Regions from separate parts of the Homo sapiens genome. Here region 2 is linked to region 1. Evidence: fine-mapped QTL for protein levels in blood plasma. Region 1 holds a variant in brackets. A gene starts in the other region. All regions are shown on their forward strands.

What was found. PIP is the chance, under the fine-mapping model, that this variant and not a neighbour inherited with it causes the effect. Protein levels are from antibody-based Olink assays in UK Biobank. Linkage for the fine-mapping came from a reference panel and not from the study's own genotypes, which makes the PIPs less certain.
Region 2: it holds the start of IGFBP3, and the variant in region 1 is fine-mapped to the plasma level of the IGFBP3 protein (UK Biobank, PIP above 0.99).

What each region holds. Positions count from the first base shown.
Region 1 is chr16:1,076,502-1,088,225 of GRCh38, forward strand. It overlaps SSTR5 (somatostatin receptor 5), which reads left to right. Exons shown (of 2, transcript NM_001172560.3): 2 at 2,341-4,953. The coding sequence starts at 2,368. The coding sequence ends at 3,462. It overlaps SSTR5-AS1 (SSTR5 antisense RNA 1), which reads right to left and starts at 2,230. Exons shown (of 4, transcript NR_027242.1): 1 at 1,957-2,230; 2 at 1,123-1,211. RefSeq lists enhancers at 1,984-2,648, 6,430-7,282. The variant C/A (reference allele first, on the strand shown) is at 2,509.
Region 2 is chr7:45,909,776-45,921,499 of GRCh38, forward strand. It overlaps IGFBP3 (insulin like growth factor binding protein 3), which reads right to left and starts at 11,497. Exons shown (of 5, transcript NM_000598.5): 1 at 10,963-11,497; 2 at 7,438-7,664; 3 at 6,773-6,892; 4 at 5,030-5,170; 5 at 2,470-4,059. The coding sequence starts at 11,365. The coding sequence ends at 5,045. RefSeq lists an enhancer at 11,300-11,724.

The DNA of each region.
Region 1 (11,724 bases):
TTTCATTCCTTTATGCTGCTTGGGACAGGTGCGCTCCCAGAAGGGATCCTGTCGCCAGTTCTGGGGGAGCCCAGCCATGCTCTCCCCCTGCCCACCCCACAGAGCCCTCTCTGGACCTTGTGCCAGCACCCTGCTCCAGTGAATCTTTCAACCCTCTTCCCATTCACCAATTCTCTCTTCAGTGCTGTCCACACTGGAGTTGGTTCTGACCACTTTTGTAGTGTTTTTTTCCACTTAAATGATTGTATTTTTTACATCCAGGATTTGTAATTTTTAAAAATAGATGCCTGTTCATTTTACTCCTTAGACAGAAGCCAAATGTATTTCCTAACATTTTATCCATGCTGTCTCTGTGGATCCTGCACATATTTAAACATAGCCTAAGCGTACCTGTTTGCTCGTTATTTTTATCTCCCTGAGATGGATCCATGGGTCCACTGGCCCTGTTGATTTTCTGAGTCGTATTTCTTAGTGTGTTTGGGCCATGCGAGCTTGGGGATGTTGATTTCTAGGTTTGTTGGGGACAGAGGGCTTTCTCTTTGTGCTGTCAGCCTTGTGTTCTGGGCTCCCCCGTCCCCAGCTCTCCTTTCCTTGTCTACCAGATTTCAGTGGCCTTGGCCCAGCCCCACAGCCCCCAGCCAGGACTGTGGCCTTTCCTGGCAGCTGCTGGGGTCGTCCTGTGCTCTGAGGTGCCTCCAGGGTCAGGGCCGGTCAGCTGAGCAGCCCCAGGGCTCCAGACGGCACATGCTGAGGTCACCACAGCCGGCTCCACCCCTGCTCAGGCCGAGGTCCCCCAGGGAGGGGCTTGTCCCTGGTCTGGATCCTAGGGGACACTTTGATTCTCTGCTGGCCACCCCCAGAGTCACACAGCTCCAGGGTCAACCCAAACATCCGGACTTCCTCCGCCCCACTCGTCAGGGGAGGCATTGATCTTCTTTTTGAGACAGGGTCTTGCTCAGTCACCCAGGCTGGCGTGCAGTGGTGTAATCACAGCTCACTGCAGCCTCAACCTCCTGGGCTCAAATGATCCTCCTGACTCAGCCTCCTCAGTGGCTGGGACTACAGGCGCCCGCCACCACACTTGGCTAATTTTTGTATTTTTTGTAGAGACGGGGGTCTCACCATGTTGCCCAGGCTGGTCTTGAACTCCTGTCCTCAGGTGATCCACCCGCCTCGGCCTCCCACAGTGCTGGGATGACAGGCTTGAGCCACTGCACCCAGCCGGAGTATCATTTTTATGAATGATTTCAAACATGCAGAAAAATACAAAAACAATATACGAGGTACACACGTGCCCATGGCCTTGGACCCACAGACGTCACCATTCCCAGCCCACCCTTCTCCATGGACACCCCTCCCTCCCCTCCCCCAAGTCTCCCCTGTTCTCTCTCTGGGCCACAGTGGGGGGTTCCAGGGCCTGGGAGGGGGCTCAAAGCTCCGATGGGACTGGGCAGTGTCAGGTGGCTGCAGCCCCCATACGCTATGCCTCTGACCCGCCCACACCCCCCACCGCGGCTTCTCCTCCGGGCTGCAGGGTGTGCAGCCCCCGCCCGCAGTCCCCCCTCCTTCGCCCTGTGTGACTCCTGGGGCTCCGTGTGACCACTCTGTGTGGTTTGTGTGTTTGCTTCTCTGCAGCCGCCCCGTGGGGAGGGTGGTGTCTCTCTGGCCCTGTGCTGTGCCCCCGCCTGGGTTTACAGATGTCTGTCATTGCTGTGGGGGTGACGGTCCCTGCGCTGGCCTGGAGAGAGGTTCGGGGCCAACGGGCAGCGGGCACCCCGGTGAAAGTCCCTCGAGGCTGCGGTGGCGACACCACGTCCAGCCACTTCTCAGGTCGTCCTAGCCAGGTGCCATTCATCCCAGGCGGACAGGGGGCCGACCACCGGCCCCATCTCTCTCCACTGCCACCTCTCCCTGTGTGTCCCGGGAGGGGCCGCCCGCTGGGCCTCGGCTCCTTACCTGGTAGACGAGGGCAGCAGCACTGCAGGGCAGGCTCTGAGGGGCTTCAGGGAGACGCAGGTGCTGGCCTCAGACTCCAGGATGCTGCGGCCAGGCCAGGCGCCATCTGGGTGCAGGGGCGGCCACAGGGCAGCTGTCGCCATATCGACAGCAGCCGTCCGTCTGGGCTCCCGGGGCCACCTGCCCGCCGCTCCTTCCTCTCCTGGCTTATTTTCCAAACAATTTGCTTAACGTGATTCCCGGCCAAGCTAAACATGACTAATCGTGTTTACCCGGTGATCCCGCGCCTCCTGGCAGGCGGGGCTGGGGCCCAGGAGGAAGGAATGCCTGCATGTGCTGGTTCAGGGACTCACCACCCTGGCGTCCTCCCTTCTTCTCTTGCAGAGCCTGACGCACCCCAGGGCTGCCGCCATGGAGCCCCTGTTCCCAGCCTCCACGCCCAGCTGGAACGCCTCCTCCCCGGGGGCTGCCTCTGGAGGCGGTGACAACAGGACGCTGGTGGGGCCGGCGCCCTCGGCAGGGGCCCGGGCGGTGCTGGTGCCCGTGCTGTAC[C/A]TGCTGGTGTGTGCGGCCGGGCTGGGCGGGAACACGCTGGTCATCTACGTGGTGCTGCGCTTCGCCAAGATGAAGACCGTCACCAACATCTACATTCTCAACCTGGCAGTGGCCGACGTCCTGTACATGCTGGGGCTGCCTTTCCTGGCCACGCAGAACGCCGCGTCCTTCTGGCCCTTCGGCCCCGTCCTGTGCCGCCTGGTCATGACGCTGGACGGCGTCAACCAGTTCACCAGTGTCTTCTGCCTGACAGTCATGAGCGTGGACCGCTACCTGGCAGTGGTGCACCCGCTGAGCTCGGCCCGCTGGCGCCGCCCGCGTGTGGCCAAGCTGGCGAGCGCCGCGGCCTGGGTCCTGTCTCTGTGCATGTCGCTGCCGCTCCTGGTGTTCGCGGACGTGCAGGAGGGCGGTACCTGCAACGCCAGCTGGCCGGAGCCCGTGGGGCTGTGGGGCGCCGTCTTCATCATCTACACGGCCGTGCTGGGCTTCTTCGCGCCGCTGCTGGTCATCTGCCTGTGCTACCTGCTCATCGTGGTGAAGGTGAGGGCGGCGGGCGTGCGCGTGGGCTGCGTGCGGCGGCGCTCGGAGCGGAAGGTGACGCGCATGGTGTTGGTGGTGGTGCTGGTGTTTGCGGGATGTTGGCTGCCCTTCTTCACCGTCAACATCGTCAACCTGGCCGTGGCGCTGCCCCAGGAGCCCGCCTCCGCCGGCCTCTACTTCTTCGTGGTCATCCTCTCCTACGCCAACAGCTGTGCCAACCCCGTCCTCTACGGCTTCCTCTCTGACAACTTCCGCCAGAGCTTCCAGAAGGTTCTGTGCCTCCGCAAGGGCTCTGGTGCCAAGGACGCTGACGCCACGGAGCCGCGTCCAGACAGGATCCGGCAGCAGCAGGAGGCCACGCCACCCGCGCACCGCGCCGCAGCCAACGGGCTTATGCAGACCAGCAAGCTGTGAGAGTGCAGGCGGGGGGTGGGCGGCCCCGTGTCACCCCCAGGAGCGGAGGTTGCACTGCGGTGACCCCCACCCATGACCTGCCAGTCAGGATGCTCCCCGGCGGTGGTGTGAGGACAGAGCTGGCTGAAGCCAGGCTGGGGTAGACACAGGGCAGTAGGTTCCCCACCGTGACCGACCATCCCCTCTAACCGTCTGCCACACAGCGGGGGCTCCCGGGAGGTAGGGGAGGTGGCCAGACCGGTGGGGGGCTCCGCCATGCCGTGCAAGTGCTCAGGGCCGCCTCACCCTCCATCTGGCCCCAGCCCATGCCGGCCTTCCCTCTGGGGAGCGACTTTTCCAGAAGGCCGGCCAGGCGAGAGGGTCTTCCTGACGGCGGAGCTGACCTGCCCGGCCCACCAGCTGCATGTCAGCTCCGAGCCACCGGGTCCCCGTCCAAGGCTGCTCTGCTAAGTTAAAGACACCCGAAAGCGCTTGACTCAGGTCCCCGGAGTCCCTGGCCAGGGCCCCAGCCCCTCGCTTGCCCTGCACTGTGTGGACTCTGGGGATGCAGGTGTAAGGGGAGTGTGGCTGGGCAGCCCCTGGTCAGCCAGGGTCACGCCTGTCCTGGGGGCCCCACCCTGCTGCCCGACACCCCCCATGGGAGGCTGCGGGCGGCAGTTGCTGTCTCAGAGAGGGGAGTGTGGGGGCTTGGGCGCTGGCCTAGCCAGGGGCGAGGTGGGGAGGCGGCTGGTGCAGAGGAGAGCTGGGGGCTGAGGTTGGGGTGAAGGCTGCAGCCCTCCAGGCTGCTGGGGGTGCAGATGGCTGTGCCGTGCTGAGATTGGCTCTGTCTGGAGGGGTCCAGTGTGGGGTGCCTGAGGGCACTAGGGAGAGGTGCTCCTGCTGCAGGAGGACCTGAGGGTCAGGGCTTGGAGAGGACAGGGAACCTGCGGCCGTCTCTTCTGCTTTGGGGCAGGGGCTCTGGCCCGGGAGAGGGAACGGGGACAGGAGCAGAGGACGGTCATCCAGGCGCAGCGGGGAGCTGCTCCCCAGGCCACAGCAGACAGCACTGCTGAGAGGCAGCGGCCGCGCGGGTGACGCAAATGGCAGGCCCTGGGAATCCCGCCGCCTCCCACCTAGAATTGTCCTACCTCCCCCACCCCAAACACCAGCTTTTCCTGGCGCCCCAGGCCCAGAACGTGGGCCCAGAGAGCCTTGCTGGGGTCTCTGGGGCACCTTGGCCTTGCTCTGAGGCTGGAAGGAGAAGGACCAGGGTGCGGCATCACTCGGCCTCAGGGACCCCTCTGCCCTGCCCAGCACTGGCCCCGACCCGTGCTCCCGCCGTCTGCCCAGAGCAGGACCTCAACCTCCTGGAGGGCACAGGGAGCGGCTGAGTGGGCACAAATCCTGGCAGGAGAAAGGCCCAGGCTGAGGCCAGGCCTGGGAAACATCCAAGCAGTGAGGACACGCGTGTTTGACAACTGCTCCCCTGAATAAATGCGAGGATAAATGTTTGATTCTTTCCCCGAGCAAATATTGTCCCTGGAGCCGAGTGCAGCCAGCGCAGAGTGAGCGGAGCCTGGGCTCCCCCGAGGCCCGACACAGGGCCCGCCCCCGGCCCCAGCCCCGCTGAGCCAGACAAGGCCGGGACGGGGGCGGCCAAATGCCCAGCAGGAAGCGGGAGGCGTGGAATTCGTGAACAGGGTGAAAAATGATGGAAGCTGCCTGGGGTCTTAGGCTGGAGCTGCCCCTCACAGCTTCTTGACAGCTCTGGGCGGGGCAGGGTGGGCTTCTGCAGGGGGTCCACAAATCTCTGCCTCTTGAGTCACCAAAGAGGGGTGCATCCAGGGTGCACTGGGGGAAACCGAGGCCCGTTCACACCGCAGCACCCCCCTCGACCTGCCTCCCCAGGGATTTGGGTGCCATGTTCACCCTCTCAGAAGGCTTTGGGGACCGAGCAGATGGCTCGGAAATCCCTGCCAAGATCAATTTCTCCAATTGATTTGACACCGGGCGCTCTCCCTGCAGGGCCGGCAGCCACGAGGGGCAGACAGAGGCGCCAGTGCCCTCACTCTCGGGTGAAGACGCCCTTGACCCCCAGCCCATTCGACCCGGCCACAAGCCTCGGGCCACCCTGCTCCCCACCTTGTCCAGCCTGAAGCCCCCAGGACCCCGGTCCCTGTCCGTCCCAGGCCCCAGCCTCATGGCCCTGCCGAGCTCCCCAGTCTGGTCCCGGCCACCCACAGCCCACATCTGTGCCTTTGGTCATAGCCTCGTCCCCATCAGGTGCACACCCTCCCCACAAACCAGACCTGCCGGCACAGCCTCTTCTTCCCTTGACCCCCAGGACGCTGTCACGCTGACCTTCTGGGGACGGTGGGCTCATGACGGCAGCCCCACAGCTGGGCCTAGGACTTACTGCCCTTGACCCCCTGGGCTGGCTGAGCCCTGAACACGTGTCTCCATCGGACAAACACACCTGCAGGGCACCAGCATGGGGCTGGGTCGTGGGATCAAGGTTGAACCGGAAGAGCATTCCAGGCAGAGGGAACAGCCTATGGGAGGGCTCAGAGGCAAAGGGGCACAGGGGGGTTAGCTGTGGGGGTCAATTCAGAGAGAGGAGCAGATCCAGGCCCCTCAAGTTCTGCCCCCATGCTGCCCCAGGGAAGGACGAAGCTGCGCTCACTCCAGCTTGAGAGAGGAGACTGGACGAGAGGCGGGAAGAGGCACACACAGGGAGTGTGCGGAAGCTGTGAGTCATCCAGAACACGCAGCGGCCTGGCCCGGGGCCGGGGCCCCAGGGGTGCTCACGAGGCAGGGGCAGCCCCTGTCCAGGCCTGGAGAAGGGGGCAGTGGCACCTGGCTGGTTCCTGCTTGGAGCACGTGGGAGGACAAGGCCCCGGGGTCTGATGGCCTCAGTGGGCTGAGAGGGCTGAAGATGTCTGGGGAGGTCCCAGGCAGCCCATGGACCAGGCTGGGCAGAGCCACGGGGAAGAGGACAAGGCCTGGATGCCCCCAGGGCACCAGCATGAAAGGCCGGGTGGGGTCAGGTGAGTGTCTGGAAGGAGCATGGGCCCTGGACCCCTACATCCTCACCTCCCGGGGCAGTGGGGGCCTGTGGGTGGCAGGGGCCGCGGAGCCGAGACCCCTTGCAGGCCACCGGAGAACCCGGTGGGGGTGGGGGGTGCGGCGCGGAGCAAACATCCTGGGCGGGGTGGCTTCCCGGCCCGCGCGCATCACTGGGTTTTATTGGCTCTGGGCTCCAGCGACTCCAGTGACCTTGCTCAGGAAACAGGCCCGGGCAGGACGAGGAGGGCGGGAGGGATCTGTTTGCCTGGCAGAGTGGGTGTGGGGAAGACGGGGCCAAGGAGAAGCAGCCCCCACAGGCAGGAGGAGGTGTCGTTAGCTCCACAGTGAGGGAAACTGCGGCCGGGCCGTCGTGGATGCTGACAGACCCCAGCGGGCCGACCCTCATCCCAACCCAGCCCCATCAGCAGGGGTGCCCTGGGGCGGGATGTGGGGGTCTGTGGAGGACCTGGAAGGCCTCCTGGGGAGGGAAGGGGGCAGAGGCGACCGGCAGCCATGGGGCCCCCAGAAGCAGCCACTGGCCCAGGGCCCCGGGGAAGCCGTTTCCTCCCACCAGACGAGACCCCAAGAGAGTGGGTGGGGTGGGGACGGGGAGTGGGACCAGCTGTGGGGTCTCAGGGAGGCAGTCTGGGGGAAGACTGCCCCTAGGACAGGCCCCTCTGCCCTCCCAAGGCCGGGTCTTGGCAGCACAAGCAACCGCTGTGGGTGCAGCAGAGGCGGGCGCTGGCCACGCTGCCCCGTGGAGGCCTGGAGCCACCTCGGGCTCTGCACTCCTGTGGGTGGCAGGAGCCGCCCAGGGCCCCTGGCAGGCTGTTAGGTGGAGTCAACCTCCTGGGTTCATTCTCTTCTGTCCCCACCCTGGCTCGGCCACAGCAGCCACCGCCTCTGGCTACGTCTCCCTCCTTACTCCCAACCCCACCTCCACTTCCAGCCCCATTTTATCCCAAACACAAATCTGTTCATGTCCCTCTGCTGCTCACGAGCCTTCTGTGGTTCCCACTCCTCAACCCACGCTTCCCAGGGCTCTGTCCCCGTCCTGGGAAACGGGTGTGATCACGTAGTGTGGTTTGAGGAGGGCTCACAAGGATACCGTCAGGACCAGGTGCCAGGTGCAATGGTTCATACCTATAATCCCAGCAACTGCTGAGGCTGAGGCAGGCAGAGAGCTTGAGCTCGGGGGTTTGAGGCCAGCCTGGGCAACATAGTAAGACCCTGTCTCTACACAATCTACAAAAATTATTCAGTGGTGCTGGTGCATGCCTGTCGTCTCACATACTGGGGAGGCTGAGACAGGAGGACTGCTTGAGCCTGGGAGGCGGAGGCTTCAGTGAGCTCTGATCATGCCACTGCACTGCAGCAAGACCCCGTCTCAAAGGAAAAAAAGGCCCTTTGTGAAGTGAGGAGTACAGTGCCCTGGCTGACACCTTGGCTTTATCAGCCTAGAGGTTCAAGGTTTGGGGCAGGGTCCTCAGAACCCGGAGATGAGACGGCTGGGAGAGGAGAGGCTACCTGTGGAGCAGAGACAGCCAGGGCCTGCTGGACTCCCCAGTTCTCCCTCCCAGGGCCTGCTGGACTCCCCAGTTCTCCCTCCCGGGGCCTGCTGGGCTCTCCAGTGGCCGAACGCAGCTGGAAGCTCTTGGTTTTGTCTATAGTGGTCGGCAACTCATGTAGAGCAGTGGGATGGGTGAGATGGGGCTGTGGAACAGAAGACACTGGCCCCTCCACCTGAGTCCCTGTTCTGATGTTCATCGCCCCAGAGAGGGTGGCCGGAGAGTGAGGGGATGCCCAGGATCTGCCTTTGTCCCAGTCGGAGCTCCTGCCTCTCACCGCACTCTGGTGCCCAGGTCCTGCCCATGGGTGCCTCCCTCCATGGGGGCTTGGAGCTTCAGGAAGGCAGTGCTGGCCATGCCTGTGCCCTCAGACATGTCCTCTCACTCCTAACTCTGCCTCCAGGAATCATGGTGGGGGCAGTTCCCTAGAGCGAGGCAAGGATTCCATGGCTGCCAGTGCAGTGGGGAGAGGTTCACAGGAGAGGGAGGTCTGGCTGCTGTTCCTGTCCACCTGGCTATGGCTTTGCCCAGCTCTCTGTACACTGGGTCTGCCTACTGTGATCCCCTGCCAGGCCCTGCCCATGTGTTTCCTGAGGGACACGGACGATGGTAGTGACCAGGCAGCTTGGAGATGCCTGTAAGCCACACGAGAATATCTAGACACTGGCACTCATGATGGTGTGAATCCACGATGATTTTTCATTCCTTCCTGTATCTTCCAAATTCTCTATTTCCTCTCAAGTTTTCCTCCTCCATCTGTGCAAGACCCCTGCAGGGCAGGAAGGCCGTCCTTTGCTGTCTATGGGACAGCCCTTCCTAGGGTCCCATGTTTTAGTTTCAGGATTGACACAAAGTAGAATGTTTTACTTTCATGAAGTCCAACCTATCATGTATCTACTTGGAAAATTATTCTGCTTTTTATCAGTGGGAGGTTTTTCCCCATTCACAGATTAGCCAAATGTCCCCACGTATTTTTTAAAATTTTGGTAAAATACGTATGACAGATTTTTACCACCATAACCATTTTTGTGGATGGTCCTATGGCATTAAGGACACTTACACTGTGGTGCAACCATCACCCCCATTTATCTCCAGAACTCTTCTCAAAACCACAAACTGAAACTCTGTCCCCATTAAACGACTCCCTATTCCCACCCCCAGCCCCGGCACCTGCCCTTCTACTTTCTGTCTCTATGAATTTGAGTCCTCTAGGTGCCTCGCGCAATTCGAATCAGACAGCATTTGTCCTTTTGTGACTGATTATTTCACTCGGCGCACTGCCTTTGAGGCTCATCCACGGAGCACGTGCCAGAATTTCCTCCCTGTCTGAGGTTGGCCACTGTCCCCGTGCATGCGTGGACCACATTTGGTTTTTCCATTCATCATCAGCAGACACCTGGGCGGTGTCCACAGTCTGAGTCCACTCCTGCTGCTGTCATAGAATACCCCACCCCTTAATACCATCACAGTGACCATCAGCTTCAGCATAGGAATTCTGGGGGCACATTCCGACCACAGCACCTACCTTATGGCTACAGTGAGTAACGCTGCTGTGAACATGGGTGTACATCTCACAATCCCACATGGGTTTTGTTGGTGGTGGTTGTGTGTGTGTGTGTGTGGCAGGATCTCGCTTGTTGCCCAGGCTGGAGTGCAATGGTGCAATCTTGGCTCACTGCAACCTGTGCCTCCTGGGTTCAAGTGATTCTTCTGCCTCAGCCTCCTGAGTAGCTGGGATTACAGGCACCCACCGCCTCACCCAGCTAATTTTTGTATTTTTGGTAGAGACAGGGTTTCGCCATGTTGGCCAGGCTGGTCTCGAACTCCTGACCTCAGGTGATCTGCCCACCTCGGCCTCCGAAAATGCTGGGACTACAGGCGTGAGTCACTGCACCCGGCCTACCCCACCTCTTAATACCATCACAGTGACCATCAGCTTCAGCATAGGAATTCTGGGGACACATTGTGACCACAGCAGCTACCTTCTGGCTACAGTGAGTAATGCTGCTGTGAACATGGGCGTACATCCCACAATCCCACATGGCTTTTGGTGGCGGTTTTGTGTGTGTGGAGGGGTGAGGGGCAGAGTATCGCTCTGTCGCCTAGGCTGGAATGCAGTGGCGCAATCTCAGCTCACTGCAACCTCTGCCTCCCGTGTTCAGGCAATTCTCCTGCCTCAGCCTCCCCAGTAGCTGAGATTACAGGCGCCCCCCACCACACCCAGCTAATTTGTGTGTTTTTAGTAGAGACGGGGTTTCACTATGTTGGCCAGGCTGGTCTCAATCTCCTGATCTCAGATGATGCACCTGCCTCAGTCTCCCAAAGTGCTGGGATTACAGGTGTGAGCCACTATGCCCAGCTGGTCCCACATGTTTCTAAAGATTATATGGCTGAAAATTATTTCATTCAACTGAAATTTGTATTATCACATGACATGAATTTTTTTTTCTTTTTTTTTTGAGACAGAGTTTTGCTCTTCTTGCCTAGGCTGGAGTGCAATGGTGCGATCTCGGCTCGCCGCAACCTCTGCCTCGCAGGTTCAAGCAATTTACCTGCCTCAGCCTCCCGAGTAGCTGGGATTACAGGCATGTGCCACCACACCCGGCTAATTTTGTAATTTTAGTAGAGACGGGGTTTCTCCATGTTGGTCAGGCTGGTCTTGAACTCCCGACCTCAGGTGATCCGCCCGCCTCGGTTTCCCAAAGTGCTGGGATTACAGGCGACATGAATTTCAAATGAAAAATACCCCTCCTTGTGGCTGCCTCTGCCTTCCTGGTATATTTCCTGGTATATGGGGCGCCCTCTTGTTCTTTGGGGGCGAGGAGCTCTGGCAGTCTGGTGTCTGCTTGGTGGCCACTGTGTTATGATATCTAATAGGGAAAGTCTCCACCCACCACTGAGCTGAGCTAAAATTGTTTAGAATCCTATCCATTCTTTCAGGTTCTCTTCAACACTGCTTTTACAAAAATTTAAAAAATGGAATTTGGGCCAGCGTGGTGGCTCATGCCTACAATCCCAGCACTTTGGGAGGCCGAGGCTGGAGGATCAGTTGAGCCCAGGAGTTCAAGACCAGCTTGGGCAACATGGCGAAACCCCATCTCTACAAGAAAAAAATTTTTAAATTAGTTGAGCGTGGTGGCATGTGCCTGCAGTCCCAGCGACTTGAGAGGCTGGGGTGGGAGGACGGCTTGAGCCCAGGAGTTCAAAGCTGCAGTGAGTGACTGTGTCACCGCACATCAGCCTGGGTGACAGAAAAAGACCTTGTCAAAAAAAAAAAAAAAAAATGGAGTGTTTACAGAAATGTTCATAGTAGCATTATCTATAACCCATAATAGCCAAAAGGTAGAAACAACCCAGGTGTCCATCAATAAACAATGGACAAACAAATGTGGTCCATCCACAGGACAGAATATTACTTGTGTGACTCCATTTCCATGAAATGCCCAGAACGGGGCCGTTCACAGACACAGAGAGGAACAGTGGCTGCCAGGGGGTGGATGGGGAGCGGGGAGTGACTGCTGAGGGGTGCCCGTTTCTTTCGGGGGGACGGAACCGTTTGGGAACTAGACAGAGGTGACGGCTGAGTGTGCAGTGCCATGCAACTGTTCACTCTCGAATGCTCAATTCTACGTAATATGAATTTCACCTA
Region 2 (11,724 bases), not on the chromosome of region 1:
GACCAGGAGGTCAGGGTTCTATACTTCTTGGAGATGACCAGTGGGCTGATGGAAATGTAGGCTCATTGCTCATTCATGAAGTAGAGGCAGGGGCATAAAACATGCAGCAAGTTTTTCTGAATGAAAAGAAACAAATCATGTTCACTGTGGAAATTGTTGAGATTGTATCAAAATAGAAATAAAACAAGGACATTACCTACACTCACATAGCCAAGGTTAATATTTTGGTGTATTTTATTTTGGTTTTATGTGTGTGTGTACACAATATAATTGCATTCTGCTTTTCTTTTAGCCCACCACAGACATTTTTCTTGCTGTAACTCTTATTCAAAAACATTTTTAGTGGTGGCATAATATTTCTTTGTACCAATGCATTTCAGTGTAAAATGCCCTTGTACTTAACTGTCTGTGCACGTCTCTGATGATGCCTGTGGGATTTGTTTCTCCAGTGGGATGACTAGTTCAAGGAGTTTGATCAGATCAGAAATGTCCCTCTAGACAGGCTGCCACAGCAGAGAACCTGGAATCCCATTAGGGTACCCTCATCAACAATGGTGATTTTTATTTTTCCTAAAGTGTGTTGATTTGATAACTTAATCTTAGGAAGCTGTTGTTGTAGCACCTGCATCACCTTGACTCCCATGGAGGAGACCACCCTTACTTGTTCATTTCTGTGTGTGTCTGCGTGCAGGTTGCTTGGGTACATGTGACCTTAGGGGTTAGTGGAAGCAAAAGCCCCAGGGAGCAGAAGTTGCCTGAGGAAGATGGCAGAGGATCAGAACCAAGGCAGGGAGGTAGAAGAACTGGAGGGTCCAGAGGAGAATGAGAGTATGCAATTTTAAGGTATTTACTGGAAGTGGCAGGAGAGCATTTAGAGGGAATAGTTGATCATAGGTATTGTGTCAGGGTTTCCCAGAGAAACAGAACTAACAGGTTATATCTATCTGTCTGTCTATCTATCTATCTATCTATCTATCTATCTATCTATCTATCTATCTATCATCTATGTATCTATCTCTGTCTAATCTACCTATCTATCTAATCTATCAATCTATCATCTATCTAGTCTATCTACCTACTTATCTCTAATCACCCACCAAAAAAGACTTATTACAAAAAATTGGCTAAGTATGGAGGCTAAGTCTCACCATCTGTAATCTGCAAGCTGGAGAACCAGGAAAGCTGGTGGTGCAATTCTGCCCACGCAGACAGAAAAAAGGCACAAACCCTTCTTTCCTCTGCCTTTTGTTCTATTCAGAACCTTAATGGATCGATGGATGCCTGCCCACATTGGGGAGGGCAATCTATTTTACTGAGTCCACTGATTTAAATGCTAATCTTATCTGGAAACACCTTCACAGATACTACGCTCACAGTATCACCCTCACAGATGCTGTACCTGGGCACCCCATGGCCCAGTCAAGTTGACACATAGAATTAATCATCATGAAGTGTGGGAAGCAGCAGAAGTTAGAGGTTAAGAAATGAGGACAAGAAAGGGCACATGAGTTGGTGGCTCCCAGGAAAACAAACCCAGTGGGCTTAGAAGGCAAGCATTATTTTGTAGCTCATAGCTCTTCAGCAGCTCCCAAGAGGTTGCCACGTTCCGGTCCTGGATTTCCAGACACTTGGCCTCGCTCCCCAGGTGCTCCAGGATTCTGCCGCACAACTCTCCGTGACGCTTGGTGCCTGCTCCCTGCAATGGGCTCCTTCTGCTCACTGTCTCCCTCCATCCTCACAGCCTTGCAGTCACAGCACCCCCAAGGGGCCTGCTTTCTCATTTGTCCTGGTTTCTCATGTGATCAGCCTGAGACCACACACCACAATACCAGTCCTCTGAACACTTACAGAACCGGCTTGCTGCTCATCACATACAACACGTGATAAGGGTATCATTTTAGATGTTTCATCAACAAATCAGACATGGCGCTAGACAGGAGGTAACTCGACAGGAGGTAACTCTTCGACTGCAGTTTATCCTTGGATGCTCTGAAGCCACAGGCTCAGTGTTTTGTCTAAAGTGGCTTTGACAAGTAACAATTCTTCCAAGGCTGCAGATGAGGGGGCTTAGATCCCAGAACCCCTTCTGCTTGGAGCAGAGAAGGGCCACTCTCTGATTGGAGATGGGAAGGGGACAAAGCGGTAAAGGACACGAGACTGAATTGCTGAGTGTCTGTTCTGGTCCTTCCCTGCTTGTCTGTGGATGGCTGCTAGTGTTAGATGGGACAATACAGGACACAACCCAAAAAAGGCAAGGACCAGTCACATAGGTGCACATTGCTGACCTGATCAAACCTGGGCCACAGACTGTCCCAACAACACAACCTCCTAGAATTGGACCATCTTGCAGATATGACCCAATGCCTCCATAGGCTTCCCACAAAGCCATGGAAACTGACTTGGGTTCTTTTGCTAAAAGGGAAAGCAGGGAAACATTTGTGGTTATGAAGTTTTCCACTACAGCTAAAATATTTTCCCCTTTCAGGATTTTATTATAATAAAATAATTATTATATAATAAAATAAAATAATTAGTGATACAAAGCCCAGAGATGGTCAATAACAAAGGGAAAGATATTTTTTTAATGGTAAAAACTTTATTTACTATTTATAAATACATTGCAAGACAAACTTCTCAAAAATACTTTTCCCCCCAAAAAGTTAAAAAAATAAAGAAAAGCTAATAGGTAGGCAGAATGTCTTGAGACCCCTCTGTTTTCAAGGAGAGCTCTATGCAGCGTGTGTCCACACCGAGGTCTGCAGCAGGGCAGAGTCTCCCTGAGCCTGACTTTGCCAGACCTTCTTGGGTTTGGCCTCCGGGAGAGCAGCCCAGTCTCTGGGCGTGAGCTCCTTTCCTCAGTCATGGCCACAGTTGTATCATATAGCATCTCTAACATTTCATCTAGGATTATCTAGTATAGATCTTACTATATTTGGGGCTATGTTGTATACAATGTTAACAAGAACATATCTTCTCTGCATATATGTGTGAATTATAAAGAAAAGCATGAGAATGACTCTAAGTTCAACAAACATGGGTGAATCTCTATGTGCTCCCAGTGTCCTGGATGGGCTCCCCAGCAAGCCATTCCTCCTTCCTGTTCTGATATTACTATTCTTTTTTACATTGTGCTAAGGAGGACAAAAGATGAGAGATGAAAATAAAGCTTTGCCTTTAAAGAGCTTATCCTCAGAAATAAGCTTCGTCTTGAGTTGTTGAACTACAAAACACTATTTTCTGCAGTCATCCGAAGAATTGTGCCATTACTTGTGATGCCTCTGAATGTGGAGGCTGACTCTCCCTGTCTCTCTGTCCCTCCTACCCCACGGGGCCGCAGCAAAAGCCATCCTGGGCCTTCGACTGGGCCATGTCTTCAGGAAGATTCCTGAAGAGGAGGGCCCGAAATACCTGCCTTTATAGGTTCCCAGAGTGCCCTAGAACATTCTTAGATACATATTTTTTAAACAAGTAGGACTCCACCTTATTTTCTCCAATAGTCCCCAAGCAGTACAGGTCACTTGAAGACATAAACATTCTTCTTGGTTGAGGGATCCACGCCCTTGTTTCAGAAATGACACCACAGAAGGCTGTGAGCTCCAGGAGCATGCGTTGGGATGTCCGGATGACCGGGGTTTAAAGGTTTTCCTATTCTCGATAAAGCCTGTGCGCACTGTACGGGGAGTGGGGGTGAAGCGTGTTCTCTACATAGGCAACACAGCCGCCTAAGTCACAAAGTCAGTGGTCGGCCGCTTCGACCAACATGTGGTGAGCATTCCACGGGCGCATGAAGTCTGGGTGCTGTGCTCGAGTCTCTGAATATTTTGATAGGAAGCGACAAGAAAATTCAAACTGCTCTTTGCTGACTACTGGAAAGTGAAAAGATGCTCAAGTTTACCATTCAAAGAAACCATAGGCATTTCAAAAACCTCTTTCTAAACTTTGGTTTAAAAAAAATCAGTTCACCACAAACAGAAATATAAATCGAGGCTGTAGCCAGCTGCTGGTCATGTCCTTGGCAGTCTTTTGTGCAAAATAAGGCATATTTGAGCTCCACATTAACTAAAACAAAAAGAAAAAGAAATATATTGAAATAATCCCCCCAAAATCAAAAGGGCTCGACTCTTGCCCTGAGATATCCAGCACAGCCTGCAGGCTAATGGCACTAGGCCTGCAAGTGCAGGGCTGGGGTCTCAACTCATGTTTTCAAACAAAGCAACGAGTACCAGATGCTGCTCACAGTGTTCATTGTCAAAGAGTTACCCTTAAATTAGAATTATTTTTTCCAACTTGTAAGGAAAAAAGAAACCCTTATAACTAAACATGCAAATTTCTTCTGCTTACTAAATTTGTCTTAATAAAATGAAAGAAAATGTATTTATTCCTTTCCCCCAATAGTTCCCTCATTTATTAAAAGAAAAAAGAAGACTGGATATAATAGCATTCTCTAAAATTATCGTTTAAAATTTCATTTTTCTATCAGATTTAAATTAACTTTATTAAAATTATATTAGCCACAGACTAACAGAATATTCATTATATATTTTACAGAAAAAAAAAGCTGCATCTTCAAACTGATGCTCTCCCAACTGAGCTATTTCAGCTGTCTCACATTCACATCTTTAATTTAGAAACATGTATCTTTAGCAGGTTCTTGCGGATTAAAACGGTTTCTCTGTGAAGATAAATGGACCTCCAGACCTCACGGGTAAAGCCTAACTTTGAAAATCTTCACTTTGTGTGTGGATGAATGATAGCTTAGGTGCTGTGAGGTATCTGAGATAAAGCAGAGTGTCCCTGAGGTGCACTGGCCGGCCTCCTTCCCCACACTTGTTTGGTTGGGTTGATGGGGTCTCCCTCTCCCTGCACCCTTCTGAGGGCTCTGTCCTATTTGCTTTGCTCTTTCTGGCCCTGAGCTGCAGCTCCTGGGTCTGTAAGCCTGGGGAAGGGCCAGTGGCCACGCCCAGCCCCTGAGGCTGGTCCAAGGACAGTGAGGCCCTGGAGCCCCAGGCTGCCCCTCCTGAGTACTCACCCTTGCGGCAGGCGTCTACTTGCTCTGCATGCTGTAGCAGTGCACGTCCTCCTTCCCCTTGGTGGTGTAGCCTGGGAGAGGCTGCCCATACTTATCCACACACCAGCAGAAGCCCCGCTTCCTGCCTTTGGAAGGGCGACACTGTGGGAGAGAAACAGAAGACAGAGAAGTGAATGCTCCTGGGTCTGGTGTCAGGTCGGTGGCCAGGGCGCATGATGGTTTGCCAGCGTGACTCTGCTATGCTGAGAAAGCACAACAGAAATTTCAGCTAAGGCAACACAAGAGCCATGCGTGCCTAGGCCCGCTGAGTGTGCGCCTGTGCATGCGTGTGGGTGTAACTTCCTGCTCCAAGAAAGCGGGGGTGGGGGCAGTTTTGTGTTTCTAGGAGTATAAGGTGGACACCAGCCCTTGTAGAACCTCTTGACTGACTTCTCTGCCAAATGTGGGACTGAGAACATCCCCGCTGCCTGCGAATGTCACAGCTATGACTTTGGAGCCCACATCCAGCCTCACATGACACCTTCTCAGTATGACTTTGTTGAATGAATATGACTTTGACAGAAAACGTGGGTATAAACGAGCAATGGCAATGGAGGAAAGCTTAGGCTTTCTGACTGTGGCCACTACTATGAATCCTAGTATATGGTCACCCTGAGGCCACTGTGGCTCACTTAGGTCTCCAAAGGCCAATTCTGTAGATAGCATAGTATCAATTGTCCAATTAGAAAGCCAATTGAAATAGTGCCATCACATAACACAAAGCCTATAGAAGCATATTTATTACAGCTTAATATTACTATATCTTAAATTTGTTTGATCATTTTCAGGTTAATTGGGATTTTAGGCATATGACTACATTTGGGGCTGATGTGTAGCCAGGATTCTCACTCCATTCCTTTTCCAGGAATGGGACTATGTTGCAATATAAAGATTTTGAAAAGACTGTTGTTTGATGTTGATGACTCTCATGCCTTCTTCTCACTTGGACTTTCTAGGGAAATGCCAGTGAGTCGGAGGAAGACCACATGGCCAGTTTGGAGAGACTGGCCATCCCCAGCATGGACCGAGTGTCTGATTTCAAGTTCCATCCCCTCCACGCCAAGACAGACACCTGGTATGTGCTGGGGATGGCTGGGCTCTCCAAGCTGGCCATGCTGCAGTCATCCCCCCACTCACTAGCATTTCCTTGAAAAGCCCAAGGGAGACAGAGACACACGAGTCACCAACATCTAGCAACAGCCTTTTCAAAATCTTAATATTGCAACCTGCTCACTATCGGGAAGGCATCAGTAGGAAAGGGGACGATTGTGGGATTTCAGGGTAAGCTTTTTGTGGTATGACCTCATGTCACACTTCTTGGAAACTGACTATAATAGTTGTTTGAAATGTCACTCCCTGACGCAGCATTAACAAATGTGTTAACATGTCCACTTGCAGTTTATAAAGGGTGCCACTGGGCAGCATCTTGTCCGCCCTGTGGGTGAACCATTGAAAGGACAGGAGTGGGAAGCGGGTGGTGGAAAGGCACTAGGGTTGAGGATTATGGCCAATATAGCAGCACTCAGAGCAACAAGTCAAAGCAGCCCTTGGTCTGACCTCCTGAGACTGGCACCAAGTCCTGGGCACTGGTGCTGCACAGGCTCAGAGTTAGAGCTATGGCCAGAAGAGCCTGGGGGCTGGTGAGATGGGTTTCTCCTCTGTGTCAACAGAAGAGGAAGAAAACACACTGAGGACCTCACTCACCTGCTTTTTCTTATAAAATCCCTTCTTGTCACAGTTGGGAATGTGTACACCCCTGGGACTCAGCACATTGAGGAACTTCAGGTGATTCAGTGTGTCTTCCATTTCTCTACGGCAGGGACCCTGGGGATCAGGAAGGACCAGAGCAACAGAGTCACAGTTTTTACTCTAGAATGTGTGCTTTAAAAATCTTACGATGCTGCACAACTACCAAAAGTGGGACCTGTAATTTGCTCCTCAGATACCTTATGTCTGATGTAGCACGAAAGTCCCCCGAATAAGCTAACCATCACTCCCTGTCTCCTTTTTGCTCTTCCCAGAGTAAGGCACAGAAGCTGGTATGGAACCAATAGCAGGTCAACAAGCATAGAGGATGAAGTAAATAAAACTATCTTTATGAGAATATTTTTCATTATCTGCAGAGGTCTTTATGACATCCCATATGCTTTTAAGAGTGTTATTTCAGCTTGATCCTCATAAGATTCTCCAAAAGGGTCAATATTCTTTATGTAAGGAGAGGAGAGAGGTAGGGCACAGAGGGGCTAGGGGTTGCCCACCCATCAGCCAGGCGCTGGGGTTTGTTGAGTAAGAATTGCCCTCAAGAGGCTCTGAGTACCCAGGCTTGGCAGGTCTTGCCCTCCTCCTTTAACAAGAGGAAAAGCTCTCACATATTCTGTCTCCCGCTTGGACTCGGAGGAGAAGTTCTGGGTATCTGTGCTCTGAGACTCGTAGTCAACTTTGTAGCGCTGGCTGTCTTTAGCATGCCCTTTCTTGATGATGATTATCTTTGAATGGAGGGGGTGGAACTTGGGATCAGACACCCGGTGCGTGCTGGAGACGGACGGGCTCTCCACACTGCCGGCGCTGCGGTCTTCCTCCGACTCACTAGCATTTCCTTAAAACGCCCAAGAGAGACAAACACATGAGAGTCATCAATATCTATCACAGTCTTTTAAAAATCTTAACGTTGCAACCAGGTCACATGTAAATGACAATATTAGTTGGCAATCCAAGTGAGTTTTTTTTTTTAAAATACCTCGATGAAGTATTATTCCATCATACTACTCACTACATGGTGGTTGCTCTACCTCAAGAAGTTATCTGTTTGAAAGTCAATCTGACAGGTGCTCTTCCTAAGTAGCTGCAACTAAAGAAGGCAGACAAACGCTTCAGTGCCCCTCAGTAGGTGAAGGCAGTATGCTTCATCTTCCACCGGCAGGGGGCAGACCTGAGCCACGGGAGGCTGCTGCAGCGCCGGCTCAGAAATTTTGCAGTCAACTCCAAGTGTGGTCCTCCCACCCGCGGGAGCAGCGGCAGCCCGGGGACTTGGAAGAAATGCACATTCTCCACTCCGGAAACGCTGGAGTGGCGGCAGCAGTCTGAGTTGTAACAAGCCCTTATGGGAATTCCAAGGTTGACCAGTACCGTCCTCAATGCTACCAGGTAAACACGCTTATAAGAGCTTGGTGTCCAGCTCAGATGGGAAAACTGAATTATTACCTGCAAAGCGTTTTGCCTCAGGGGCTCAGAATCATGCAAGCATGTTGGTGGCTTGTTTTCTAGGTCCCCGTTACATCTCTAAAACTCAAGGTCTACACAGACCCTGTGCATCTTGCTGGTGCCTGCCTAAGTGAGTCCTTTTCACCCCGGGTGAACACAGCAGCACATGGATGCAGACAATGCCAAAGTCCCACTCACGGCTCAGACTTCTAAGTGCCAAAGAGCTTTTCCTTCCCTGGGTGGGGGTGGGGTAGGAGAAATCCCCCTCCAGCAGATCTCCCTTTTATAATAAAAAGTGCTAAATGAAGAAAGTCTGATGCTTAAAATGGATGCTGGAATGTTAACAGTTGAATTGGAATTTTAAGTATATGACTAAATTCAAGACTGGATCTGCAGCCAGGATTCTCACTCCATTCCTTCTTCAGAATGAACTTGGAGGGGCTGTAAGACCGCTATGGGGATCAAAGGCTACATTCAGAGCCCATGCTCCCAGGGCCTGTGGACCATGCCAAGGTCTGGAGGCATCGGCTTAAGTCCACAATTGAGAGTCATGAAATTTCTCTACTACAACAAACAGGGCTATAATGTGTAACCCTAGCAGGGAGCTCAGGTGGCCCATCTGGTCCACAGTCTATTCTAGAAAGCTACCTGGGGCTGCAATGATTTGGCTGCAGATGCTCTGCTCTCCCCTGGAAGTGGCTACTGGCAGGTCACTCACCAGGGCCTTAGGAAAGTCCCTCTCCTCTCTGGGTCTTAGTTTCCTCACCTGCCAAACAGCTCACTGAGGTCCTGCTGTAAAGTTCCCCAAGGGGTTTCATACCTTGGGAAGCACACATTCCCAGGGTCCAGCACAGAGCCTCACAGAGGAGGTCCCTACCTGCGAGGATTTGGTTTCAATTTCTTTTAATCTTAGCTTGCTTTCTTTTTCAAGGAAATACTGAGATAAAAGAGATACTAAGAATGTAAATACTCTAAGAACATGTAAATAAACGTATTTATACTTCTTTTCTAAGAACCTTGAGTAATTTCTTAAATTTCCTTGGTTTCTTCTTAATGCCTGGGCTGCAGACTAGGGCATGAAGACAAAACAGTTCTATTTAAGCAACAGATAATTGTGACTTTTGACTGTCGAAAATTTACCTTTTTTTGTCAAATAGATTCTAGAAGTCACTTAGATCTTTTTATAATCTTATAACTCACATCAACCTATACTACAGTGCTACTAAGGTGGTAATCATGATGATTGCTAAAGCCCAAGAATGACGATGTGTATCAGTATTTCTAAGATCACTTTTTGAATACCCCAAAATGCACAATAATGTACGACACTTGGCAAATGACATAACTTTGCCCCGAGAGACAAATGCCTCCAGCAGCTTTAACAGCTGACCAGAGCCAGTGTATGTTTCAGGCATCTTGCCTTTCCATGAATCCAGCATTTCTCAGGGGTGAACAGAGCCAGCCTTGCCGAGCCAGAAAATAACTTCACCCGGGCGTGGAACTCTACAGCTACATAAATTATAAAGGGACTGTTCATCCTGCTAGCCCTAGATGGGGGCCTGCCCAGTGACATCTGTCCAACGTGATCGTTGGGGAGTTGGGGGAATTAGGATGGGGAGAATTCTCCCAGCCTTCAGCTGTGCAAGGCAGGAACTTTATTTCTCATATAACTAGGTGAGGCTGGCTAAGAATGCTTGAAAGAACAGCTGCCAAATCCATTTAAACAACCCCCGCTCCTTTTTTTAAGGGAACAATGTGATGCCCTTACCAGAGTCGCTGTCTGCCTGATACTGATAGTGGCTAAGCCAAGAGGGTAACTCTGCCAAATGTTTGCATTTTTCCTCTTCTGGGGCTCCCCTTAACAACATCTCATTCCCCCCCCCATTTCAGATTAAGAAGGGAGACAGCCCTAGGACTGATTCCAATTCCCTTCCGTGTCATTGAAATTGACTTAGTCCACATTGCCCGCACCCACCACGCACCTGGAAGTTTGTTTGAGGTCGGCGCAGGTGCAGGGGTGGCCCGAGTTGTAAGAATGGTATGGTACTGAAAGTGGCACGCGGAGTTCAAACCTACACTCTGTTGTGGCCGCTGGGTAACCTTAAGAAGTTACTTCTTTTTCAGCTTCAGGTTTTCCAACCGCAGAAGATATCAAAACCCGAATCCACTTTACTTGTTTTTGGACATACCGGGACTAGACATTGCTTTGCAAACCAAAAGGCTGTGCAAAGTCAGTATTTTAAAAGAGAGGTACTATTTCCTACAACGTGCCTGCCCACCTTCCTTGGTCCAAATCCGCCTATATCCCCCCCATCCCCAAGCATCCCTGGGATTGCAGTCCGTGTGCACCCCCGTGCGGGGCGAGGAGAATCTCCTGTGTCCAGGATCTTTCCAACAGCTAAACATCGGTACCGCTCCCCTCAGCTCCGGAAACCTTTAACCCATTTTCACTGAAAGCGCTTTGCAATTTACAAGTACTCTGCACTTAGAGAATCGAGCAAGTAGAGGGCCGGCTGGGGAGGGTCCCTCCGGCGACCGCCTTCACCTTTCCCGGAGCGCCTTCAGTTTCCCCACATATTATCTCCAGTGAGAAGAAAAGCGGAGTCTCCCGCAGCGGCACCCAGCAACCCCCAGGCCCTTCGGCGCCAGTGCGCCGGGTGCTGCACGCAGCGCACCTGGCGCGGGCGGCTCACCTGGAGCTGGCGGCGCTGGCAGCAGGTAGGCGCGCAGGCGGCTGACGGCACTAGCGTTGACGCAGAGCCCGCGGCCGTCCAGCAGCGCCTGCAGCGGTCGCGCCTCGTCGGGCGACGGCTGGCAGCGAAGGCCGGAGCCACAGCGCTCGGTGTAGATGCCGCACGGCTGGCCCTCGCTCAGTGCGCACGTCAGGCAGCAGCCGCAGCCCGGCTCGCGCACCAGCTCCGCGCACACGGCGGGCGGAGGCGCGCACTGGGCCAGTGCACGCGCGTCGCACGGCTCGCAGCGCACCACGGGACCCAAGCCCGCCGAGCTCGCGCCAGCCCGCGCCACCGGCGGCCCGCGGAGCAGCACCAGCAGAGTCAGCGCAGCGGCCCAGAGCGTGGGTCGCGCCCGCTGCATGACGCCTGCAACCGGGGCACGCTGCTTGGCAGGCTGGGCGCGCAGGGATGGGGCGACAGTACACGGCGCGAAGCTGTGGAATCCAGGCAGGAAGCGGCTGATCCTCAGCGCCCAGCCGCAGTGCTCGCATCTGGGCGGCCCGGGCGCGCCGGCCGCTATATAGAAGCCGGGGTGGCCCAGGACACGCCCCGGAACGGCGCGCCCAGGAGTGGGGGTTGGGAGGGGGGCGGGTCGGCGCAGGCACGGCTGCGGGGGCCCGTGCTTCGCCCTGAGCAGCCGGGGCCGAGCTCGGGGGCGTGCAGCTCGAGACTCGCCCGGGCACCTGCTCCTCGTGCGCACGCCCGGAGCCCGGGTCACCT